2 separate regions of the Homo sapiens genome follow, and region 2 is linked to region 1. Evidence: fine-mapped expression QTL. Tissue or cell type: whole blood. Region 1 holds a variant in brackets; the other region holds the start of a gene. All regions are shown on one strand. Distances are between the middles of the regions.

What was found. PIP is the estimated chance that this variant, and not a neighbour inherited with it, causes the effect.
Region 2: R3HDM2 starts here. The variant in region 1 is fine-mapped to the expression of R3HDM2 in whole blood (TOPMed, PIP 0.98).

The regions. Positions count from the first base shown.
Region 1 is chr12:57,349,086-57,354,290 of GRCh38, reverse strand. All of the region lies in intron 2 of R3HDM2 (R3H domain containing 2), which reads left to right. Among named protein-coding and RNA genes, the nearest start is that of R3HDM2, 79 kb to the left of the region's middle. The variant C/G (reference allele first, on the strand shown) is at 3,113.
Region 2 is chr12:57,427,938-57,433,068 of GRCh38, reverse strand. It overlaps R3HDM2 (R3H domain containing 2), which reads left to right and starts at 2,026. Exons shown (of 24, transcript NM_001394031.1): 1 at 2,026-2,349. It overlaps R3HDM2-DT (R3HDM2 divergent transcript), which reads right to left and starts at 1,953. Exons shown (of 2, transcript NR_185976.1): 1 at 1,639-1,953. RefSeq lists a silencer at 2,125-2,594 and an enhancer at 2,775-2,884.

The DNA.
Region 1 (5,205 bases):
CCATCAAACAAAAAGTCTGGCCATACCAAATGTTGATGAGACTGTGGAGCAGTTAGAATTCTCATGTTACTGATAAGAAAGATGGTACAACCACTTTGAAACAGACTTAAAAAAAAAAATTAGACCAGGCGTGGTGGCTCACGCCTGTAATCCCAGCACTTTGGGAGGCCAAGGTGGGCAGACACCTGAGGTCAGGAGTTCAAGAGGTCAGGAGTTCAAGACCAGCCTGGCCAACATGGTGAAACCCTGTCTCTACTAAAAATACAAAAATTAGCTGGGTGTGGTGGCGTGCACTTGTAATCCTAGCTACTCAGAAGGCTGAATCAGAAAATTGCTTGAACCCAGAGGTGGAGGTTACAGTAAGCCGAGATTGCACCACTGCACTCCAGCCTGGGTGACAGAGCGAGACTCTTTCTCAAAAAAATAAAAAAATAAAAAAAACATATTTTTACCACAAGAGACACCCATTCTTCCCTCTATGTCTTTATGCAAGAGAAATGAATCCATATGTTCATGTCAAGATTTATATATGATTTTTTATACCTGCTCTATTTGTAATAGTTAAAAATTGGAAATAGCTGGGTATGGTGGCACACACCTATAGTTCCTAGCTATTCGGGAGGGTGAGGTGGGAGGATCCTGGAGTCCAAGAGTTTGAGGCCAGCTTGAGCAACATAACAAGACCCCATATCTAAAAAAAATAAAAATAAATAATAAATGGGAAACAACCCAGATATTCCTCAACACATAAATGAATAAATTATGCTTTATCTATTCAATGGTGTATAACTCAACAATAAAATTAACAATTTATTGATATATCAGTACATGGAAATTGTAAGACATTTTTTAAAGTTTTTGGTGGTCTGTTGGGTGTGGCATGAAATTTTTGGTTTTAATTTGTATTTTCCTAATTCCTAGGAGAAGATGAATTTATCTTTATTATTAGTCATTTGAGTTTCTAATTTTTAGTCTTTGGCAAGTTTTCTAATTACTTACTTGTCATTTTCTTTTTGGTTTGTAATTCTTTGTATATACTAAGTACCAGTTATTTGTCCTATATGTATGTTTCACAAAAAAACTTGCAGTCTGTAGCTTATTTTTTAACTGTTTATGAATTTTTAAAATTGTATAGAAGTTTTCAATTTTGAAGTCATCAAAAGTTTCAATGTTTTTTCTGATTTGTGCTAATTCTTATTCAAGAAATCCTTCTTTATGCTGAGGTCATTAAGAATCTTGTATATCTGTTTTTGAACATTTTAAGGATTTACTTTTCATGTGTAGGTCTTTAATCTACCAGAAATTTATATTTGTGTGTGGTGTGAATATGGCTCTGATTTTTTTTCTATGTGGATAACTAATTGCCCCAACACATCTGGTACCGTATTTAATTATGCTTCTAATATAATCAAGTTTTGGGTCATGTACAGGATCTCTATTCTTTTCCCATTGATCTGCTCAATTCCCAGGTCTTAATTACTATATAAGAAGCTTATGCCTTGGATGCCATGGTTCACGCCTGTAATCCCAGCACTTTAGGAGGCTGAGGTGGGTGGATCATTTGAGGTTAGGAGTTTGAGACCAGCCTGGCCAACATGGTGAAACCCCATGTCTACAAAAAAGTACAAAAATTAGCTGGGTGTGGTGGCGCGCACCTGTAGTCCCAGCTACTCACGAGGCTGAGACAGGAGAATTGCCTGAGTGCAGGAGGCAGAGGTTGCAGTGAGCCGAGATCATGCCACTGCACTCCAACCTGGGTGACAGAGTGATGATCCATCTAAAAAAAAAAAAAAAAAAAGCGTTTGCCTAGTGTGGCAGATTTTCCTTCCTTGTTCATCTTATTTAAACTCCATTGACATTTTTGTTGGAATTGAATTGAATTTAAAGATCGACATGGGGGAACTGACTTTGCAATATTGAGTCATTCTAGCCAGAGATATGATCTATGACTCCATTTGTTTGGGTTATTTATACCCTTCAATAACATTTCATAAGTTTTTCATTAAAGATCTCTTTTCCCTAGATTTGTTTTTTTTTTTTTTTTTTTTTGAGATGGAGTCTTGCTGTGTTGCCCAGGCTGGAGTGCAGTGGCACCATCTTGGCTCACTGCAACCTCCACCTCTTGGGTTCAAGTGATTCTCCTGCCTCAGCCTCCCATACCCTAAGTAGTTTTGTTAATTATTGTATTTCCTTTCTCTACTGTTAGAATATAGATACACTGTTAATTTTAGTACATTGATCTTCATTTCAGCTGAATTCTTTTAAATGCTAAATGTTTGGTACTTAGATTTTCTTGGGTACTAGACAGCCACATTGGTTAAATTTAGGAAAGTTTTGTTTCTTTTTAATTACACCTTCTTTGTTTTTTATGTCTTACTGCTTTTGTCTAAGCCTTCCCATTCAATAATGAATAGAGATGGTGATGGTGAGCATCCGTATATCATTCCTGACTCTAATGATGACTTTTTTTCATATAAACTCAGTAATAACAATATTGACTCCAATTTATTAAGTTCCTACTCTGTGCCATGTACAAATCACACAGTGTGTTAGTGATTTGTTTCTAATTTTTGTAATATCTTGCAAGACAGATAGAGTTACCCCATTTTATATATGACATTCAAACAGGTAGAGTAGTAGTTTGCCTGTTACATAATTAGTGAGTAGAAAATCTGGGAATTAGTTATTGTTAGTTTTTGTGCTTTACCTAGAGAAAATCTCTCAGTGGGGAGAAGTAGAAAGACTTGCTAAAATGAAATGCTGACATTTTCTTTATGAATTCTCCATCTGCTACATGCTATAGAAATGGCACATACTCCCTCAGTACTCACCATCCACAGGCCTTACTTATTGCTTCCTTTTATATCCTGTTGATGTGAATGAACACTATTGTTTTTTTAGTCTTAATTATTGCTTAATTCAGATTATGTCTTATTCATCACATAAGCAGATTTTGCCTTCTACAGCAGCAGCTCTTCGTTCTACATCTCTTTTTTCATTCTTTAGACAGTTTTTTATTTTAATCAGACAGGATCTTGCTCTGTCGCCTAGGCTAGAGTACAGTGGTGCCATCACGGCTTGCTCCAGCCTCAACCTCTTGGGCTCAAGCAGT[C/G]CTTCCACGTCAGCCTTCTGAGTAGCTGGGACCACAGGTGAGCACCTAGCTAATTTTGTATTTTATTTTTATTTTTTGAGACAGAGTCTCACTCTGTCGCCCAGGCTAGAGTACAGTGGCACCCATGGTCTTGGCACACTGCAACCTCCACCTCCAAGGTTCAAGCAATTCTTTGCCTCAGCCTCCTGAGTAGCTGGGATTACAGGCACCCGCCACCATGCCCAGCTAATTTTTGTATTTTTAATAGAGATGGGGTTTCACCATCTTGGCCAGGCTGGTCTTGAACTCCTGACTTTGTGATTCACCCTCCTTGGCCTCCCAAAGTGCTGGGATTACAGGCGTGAACCACTGCACCTGGCCAACGCCTAGCTAATTTTTAAATTTTATGTAGAGACAGGGTCTTCCTATGTTGCCCAGGCTGGTCTTGAACTCCTGAGCTCAAGCGATCCTCCTGCTTTGGCCTCCCAAAGTGTCGAGATTACAGGCATGAGTTCTCATTCTTTAGACATTTGATGTAGTTGTTTGTTTTTGGTTTTAGTTATTTTTTGAGTGAGGTCTTGCTCTGTTGCCCCATCTGGAGTGCAGTGGTACAATCATAGCTCTCTGCAGTTTGAACTCCTGGGCTCAAGGTATCCTCCCGTCTCAGCCTCCCAAGTAGCTGGGATTAGAGGGTAACCATCACGCCTGACCATTTGATGTAGTTTTATTTGCCATCCAGATATGGGAGAAGTTTTGGAAGTTTATCTCAGGCTTCATCTCTCTTCACTCATGTAAGCTTTTTTTTCTTTTCAAAAATTTTCTTATGGGAATTTAAACATAAATAACAATAGAGAATAGTTTAACTTCCATGAATCCAACACCTAGTTTCAACACAGTCTCCTCCCATTTTTTATTGTTGTTATTAAAGTTGGATTATTTTATTTATTAGTTTAATGTATTTTATTTTATTTTTATTTTATTAATTTGTTTGAGACAGAGTCTTGCTCTGTCGCCCAGTCTGGTGTGCAGTGGCGCGATCTCGGCTTACTGCAATCTCTGCCTCCCGGGTTCAAGCGATTCTCCTGCCTCAACTTCCCAAGTAGCTGAGACTGTAGGCATGTGCCACTATGCCTGGCTGATTTTTGTATTTTTAGTAGAGATGGGATTTCACCATGGCCAGGCTGGTCTCAAACTCCTGACCTCAGATTATCTGCCCACCTCGGCCTCCCAAAGTGCTGGGATTACAGGCGTGAGCCATTGTGCCCGGTTGAGTTTAATGTATTTTAATAACAAACTTACAGGAACAGCACAGAAGACAGACAACATTAAAACCATGTACTGGCCAGGCGCTGTGGCTCACGCCTGTAATCCCAGCACTTCGACGGGCTGAGGCAGGTGGATCACGAGGACAGGAGATGGAGACCATCCTGGCTAACATGGTGAAACCCCGTCTCTACTAAAAATACAGAAAATTAGCCGGGCGTGGTGGCACATGCTTGTAGTCCCAGCTACTCGGGAGGCTGAGGCAGGAGAATGGCTTGAACCCGGGAGGCGGAGGTTATAGTGAGCTGAGATCGTGCCACTGCACTCCAGCCTGGGCGACAGAGCGAGACTCTGTCTCAAAAAAAAAAAACAACCAAAAAACAAAAAGCAAACCATGTACTTAGATGTAGGACAACTGAATTAGAAAAATATGGTGAATGGATGGAATTAACTGCATGATAAAAATGCTGCAAACACTATTTAGTTGCCAACAGTAAGAAATTTACTTGATTTTCTTGATTTTCTTTTCTTTTTTTTTTTTTTTTTTTTTTTTTTTTGGAGACGGAGTCTCGCTCTGTCGGCAGGTTAGAGAGCAGTGGCGAGATCTCGGCTCACTGCAAGCTCTGCCTCCCGGGTTCACGCCATTCTCCTGCCTCAGCCTCCCGAGTAGCTGGGACTACAGGCACCTGCCACCACGCCCGGCTAATTTTTTGTATTTTTAGTAGAGTCGGGGTTTCACCGTGTTAGCCAGGATGGTCTCAATCTCCTGACCTCGTGATCTGCCCGCCTCAGCCTCCCAAAGTGGTGGGACTACAGGCGTGAGCCACCATGCCCGGCCTTGATTTTCAAGT
Region 2 (5,131 bases), 79 kb before region 1:
TCCCTGTCTCCTTCTTTTTTGCCCTTAAAAATGTGCTTGTAGGCTGGGCGTGATGGCTCACGTCTGTAATTCCAGCACTTTGGGAGGCTGAAGTGGGCAGTTCACTTGAGGTCAGGAGTTCGAGACGAGCCTGGCCAGCATGGTGATACCCCATCTGTACTAAAAATACCAAAGAAAAATAAAAAAATAAATAAAATAAAAATAAGCCGGGCGTGGTGGCACATGCCTGTAGTCCCAGCTACCTGAGAGGCTGAGGCAGGAGAATCACTTGAACCCGGGAGGTGGAGGTTGCAGTGAGCTGAGATCATGCCACTGCACTCCAGCCTGGGCGACAGAGCAAGACTCCGTCTCAAAAAAAATAAAAAAAAATCTGGAACTTTGGTTTCATTATTGTGCCTCAGGTTTCCTCATCTATAAAACAGGTATAATAATAGTACCTATTGTATTGAGGATTTGATACTAACAATAGATGTAGAATGCTACACATTTTATATTGTACTTACATACACATAATACAAATATTAGCTATTATTTCCTACTGGTCATCACTGCCTGGTCTGGAACTCCTGAGCTCAAATGATCCACCTGCCTTGGCCTCCCAAAGTGCTAGGTGTGAGCCACTGCGCCCGGCCAAGACAAAAAGTTTAAATCGTGGTGAAAAGTGGCAGGTTAGATCAGTTCAGTTCAGTTGTATTTTTCTTCCCCCGTTGTTGTTCTCTAGAGGGTTGAGAGAATTTGGGGGCAGGAGGCAGTGATGACCAGGAGAGAGGGCTGGGCAAGGTGGCTCACACCTGTAATCCCAGAACTTTGGAAGGCCGAGGCGGGTGGATCACCTGAGGCCAGGAGTTCGAGATTAGCCTGGCCAACATGGCAAAACCCCGTCTCTACTAAAAATACAAAAAATAGCCGGGTGTGATGGTGCGTGCCTGTAGTCCCAGCTACTCCGGACGCTGAGGCAGGAGAATCACTTGAACCTGAGAGGTGAAGGTTGTAGTGAACCGACATTGCACCACTGCAATCTAGTTGCCTGGGTGACAAAGCGAGACCCCATCTCAAAATAAATAAAACAAACAAACAAACAAACAAAAAACGCCAACCAACCTGGAACTTGCTCATCCTTGAAGGAAAGATGAACTTCATGCCTCTATGACTTTGCTGGAATCTCCATTCTTACCTCTCTAGTGAACTATTTATAGTCTCAAGATTAGCTGGAGTTTCACCTGTAGTTTCTCTGTAACTTACTCAATCTCTTTTACCGCTAAGAACGAATTGCTGTTCCTTGTGTTTCCATAGCACATTTAAACCTTTCTATTATAGCACTTAAATTGTACTATAATTATTTGACTTTTTTTGCCTACCGCAGTTTCTGTCACAAGGTAAATATTTAATGGTCGAATTCTACAAAAGACTACATTGCTTCTTTGAGGGAGTTTGGTCAGTAAATTATCCACACACACATAATCAATAACTAAATTGATTCTGCCTAGAATGGACAAAACGGGGGAGGCTGGACATTTAAGACGATTTTTGAGAACTGTATCTTAGAGAGGGGATGATGGTAAGAATGTGATCTTAATAGGACAGACTGAGTTCCTCCTAGGTCGGTTTTTTTCATCTTTACGTAAAATGGACATTTACCTGCTCAACTATAGTTATCCACGTATGCAACAAATACCGAGTGTACGTTCTTTTGGTACAGGAGTTACTGCCCTAAGTGAAAGTGCTCTGTAAATGGAAATTACTTTAGAATGATCACTATTAGTATTATATTGAAATCCAGGGTATTCTATCTGACAGACTTGAAGGGTTTAAGGAGGACCGAGGCTCCCAGTGACTCCGGATTGGTGTCCTGACACAGGTAACGCGGAAGGAGGAGAGGGCGAGCGAGCGAGTGCGAGTGCGCGCGCGCCGGCGGGAGTGCGTGCGGCAGGCGGTAGGCCCCGCAGGGCTGCTGAGGGGCACGCGGGAAGCCAGGAAGCAGGGACGGCCGGAACGCAGGACGAGGTGACGACAACGCCGGACGTAGTGACGTAGCGCGCAGCCGCAGCGGGGGGCGGACTCTGGGCTTTTCTTCCCCTTCTGATTTTCCCCTCCCCCCTTTTCTCCCTTTCCGGGTTTGGTTCCCCCCTTTTCTTCCCCTCTCCCCCCTCCTTCCCAAGCCCCTTTCCCCTCCCCCGTCCCAGTCCCCCCTGCTTCCCAGCCCTCGGCCCCGGGGAAGCCCCGGCCGAGAAAAGCCCGCCCCCAGAAGCGCGCCGCCGCCGGCCGTCGGGGCCGAGCCGCAGCCGAGCGGCCGTGGGCCCGGGCGGCGGGCGGAGACGTGGGCGCCCTCCCCGCCAAGGCCCGTGCGAGGTGAGGCCACCTCCCGGCCGAGGGGGCGGGCGGCCCGGACGGCCTGTGGGGAGGGGGCGTGGCGGCCGCACGGGCGGGCGCGAGGAGGCCCCGCGGCCTGGGTTCCTCGCGCCCGGCAGCCGGTCCCGGGGACGATGGGTCAGGGTCGGATGGCCGCGGGAAGGACTGCTCCAAGTGTGCGCTGCTGGAGAGAAGCTGGGGGCGCGGGGCGGAGGGCGGCGGTGCGGGGGCAGGGGGGTGGCGCCACCTGTGGCCTTTGCGGGGTGACCTAAAAACTATTGCGCCCTTCCAGTGCTTCGGGGTGGCTAGCTCCGTGTGTTTCTTGGGTGGCGGTTTTCCTTCGAGCGTGGAGCATGGAAAAATAGGACGGAGAGGTGTAGAAGTGTTTAAAATCATGCTGGTGTCCAGGTTTCTTACAGGGACGGGGATTTGAGTTGGCACATACAGGGAGATGTTTCTATAGCTTAAAACTTGGGCCTACACTAAGCTCATAACTACTCGAGCCCCTGAAAACGCTTCGATTCGTTTTCCCGTAGAGCTAACATTTTTCAACATTTGTGGCCATTAAGTCTCGGAACTACCAGGAATACTGACTTAGAGTGAATTGTCATTGGATAATGATGAGAAATGACCGAATAACAATCCCAGAACTGCGTTAAAACGGAAGAAAGAAAAGTGGAAAAGTTTGAATTCAGATCCCAGTTGGATGAATATCCTTGTACATAATGTTGTTCAAATAGATAACTAAGATTGAGAAGCCTGAGTCCTGTCTGATATGCGTAAGCCACGTGGAGACTCAAGGAAGGAGGAAAGTGACAGGTTTCACTTCAGGAATATCACAAATTCCTAGCATTTTCTTGTATTTTTAGATAGATTTGCAGTTGAATTATTTGTGGCTCTTCTTCCTAATGCTTTTTTTTGTTGTTGTTCCACCAATATTCCCCCCCCACCCCCGCCCCCCTTTTTGTTGCTGGGGTATCAAGACAAAAGGTTGTATTTTGTTTTTTGAGACAGGGTCTCAGTCTGTCACCCAGAATGGAGTGTAGTGGTTCCTTTTCGGCTCAATGCAACCTCTGCCTCCTGGCCTCAAGCCGTCCTCCTACCTCAGTCCCCCAAGTAGCTGGGAGTACAGGCATGAGCCACCACTCCTGGCTGATTTTTGTAGAGACGGGTTTCACCTTGCTGCCCAGGCTGGTCTGGAACTCCTGGGCTCAAGTGATCCACCTGCCTTGGCCTCCCAAAGTGGTAGGCTTGAGCCACCGCGCCGGGAAAGACAAAAAGTTTAAATAGTGGTGAAAAGTGGCCGGTTAGATTAATTCAGTTCAGTTTTTAGTTGTATTTTTCTTACCCTGTTGCTGTTCTCCAGAGAGTTGAGAGAAAAGATAACTTTTTTCTTGAAGGCCTGATGAACTCCTAACAAGTTAAATTTCAGAGTTGAAGTTCCATTTGTCTTTGTGTCCATTATATGATTAGTAGAGCTTCACAATTTTTTTTTCGTAGGGATGGGATCTTGCTATGTTGCCCAGGCTGGTTTTGAACTCCTGGCCTCAAGTGATCCTCTGGCCTCAGACTCCCAAAAGCACTGGGATTACAGGCGTGAGCCATTGCTCTTGGCAGAGCTTCACAATGTAAAGTTTTAAAAAAATTTGACAAATAAAAATAGCATGCCTGACTGGCCGGGCACGGTGGCTCATGCTGTAATCGCAGCACTTTGGGAGGCGAAGGCAGGTGGATCACCTGAGGTCAGGAGTTTGAGACCAGCCTGGCCAACATGGTGGAACCCCGTCTCTACTAAAAATACAAAAAGTAGCCAGGCGTGGTGGCAGGCACCTGTAATCTCAGCTTCTTGGCAGGCTGAGGTGGGAGAATCATTTGAACCCAGGAGGCGGATTTTGCAGTAAGCCAAGATCGTGCCACTGTACTCCAGCCTAGGCAACAGAGCGAGAGACTGTCTCAAAAAAAAAAAAAAAATAATAGCATGCCTAATATTTTTTAATGGAAAATTAAGACAGGAGATGGCTTCCTTTCTCTTTCAAAATAAAAACCAATGTTACTTTTTGTTGTTGTTGTTCTTTCTCGCTATGTCACCCAGGGTGGAGCGCAGTGGTGCAATCTCGGCTCACTGCAAGCTCTGTCTCCTGGGTAAATGCCATTCTCCTGCCTCAGCCTCCTGGGTAGCTGGGACTACAGGTGCCCCCCCACCACGCCCCCCACCACACCCCCCACCATACCCGGCTAATGTTTTGTATTTTTAGTAGAGACGGGTTTCACTGTGTTAGCCAGGATGGTCTCGATCTCCTGACCTCGTGATCTGCCCACCTCGGCCTCCCAAAGTGCTGGGATTACAGGCATGAGCCACCGCGCCCAGCCAAACCAATCTTAGCTTTAAAGCTCTAGATCTGTGGCACCCTTTTCCCCTAACATGCACACTGGCCTCTGGCTGTTCCTTGAGCACACTAGGCACACTTCTGCCTCAGGGTCTATGCTCTTGTTTCCTCTTCCTGAGTTACTTTTCTCTTACAAAGCTGTGTAAGAGCATAGCCTGTCTGTCCCCTCATCTCCTTCAGGTCTTTACTCAAATTTCACTCTTTTTTTTTTTTGAGATGGAGTCTCGCTCTGTCACCCAGGCTGGAGTGCAGTGGCATGATCTCGGCTCACTGCAACCTCTACCTCCTGGGTTCAAGCGATTCTCCTGCCTCAGCCCCCTGAGTAGCTGGGATTACAGGTGCCTGCCACCATGCCTGGCTAATTTTTTTGTATTTTTAGTACACACAGGGTTTCA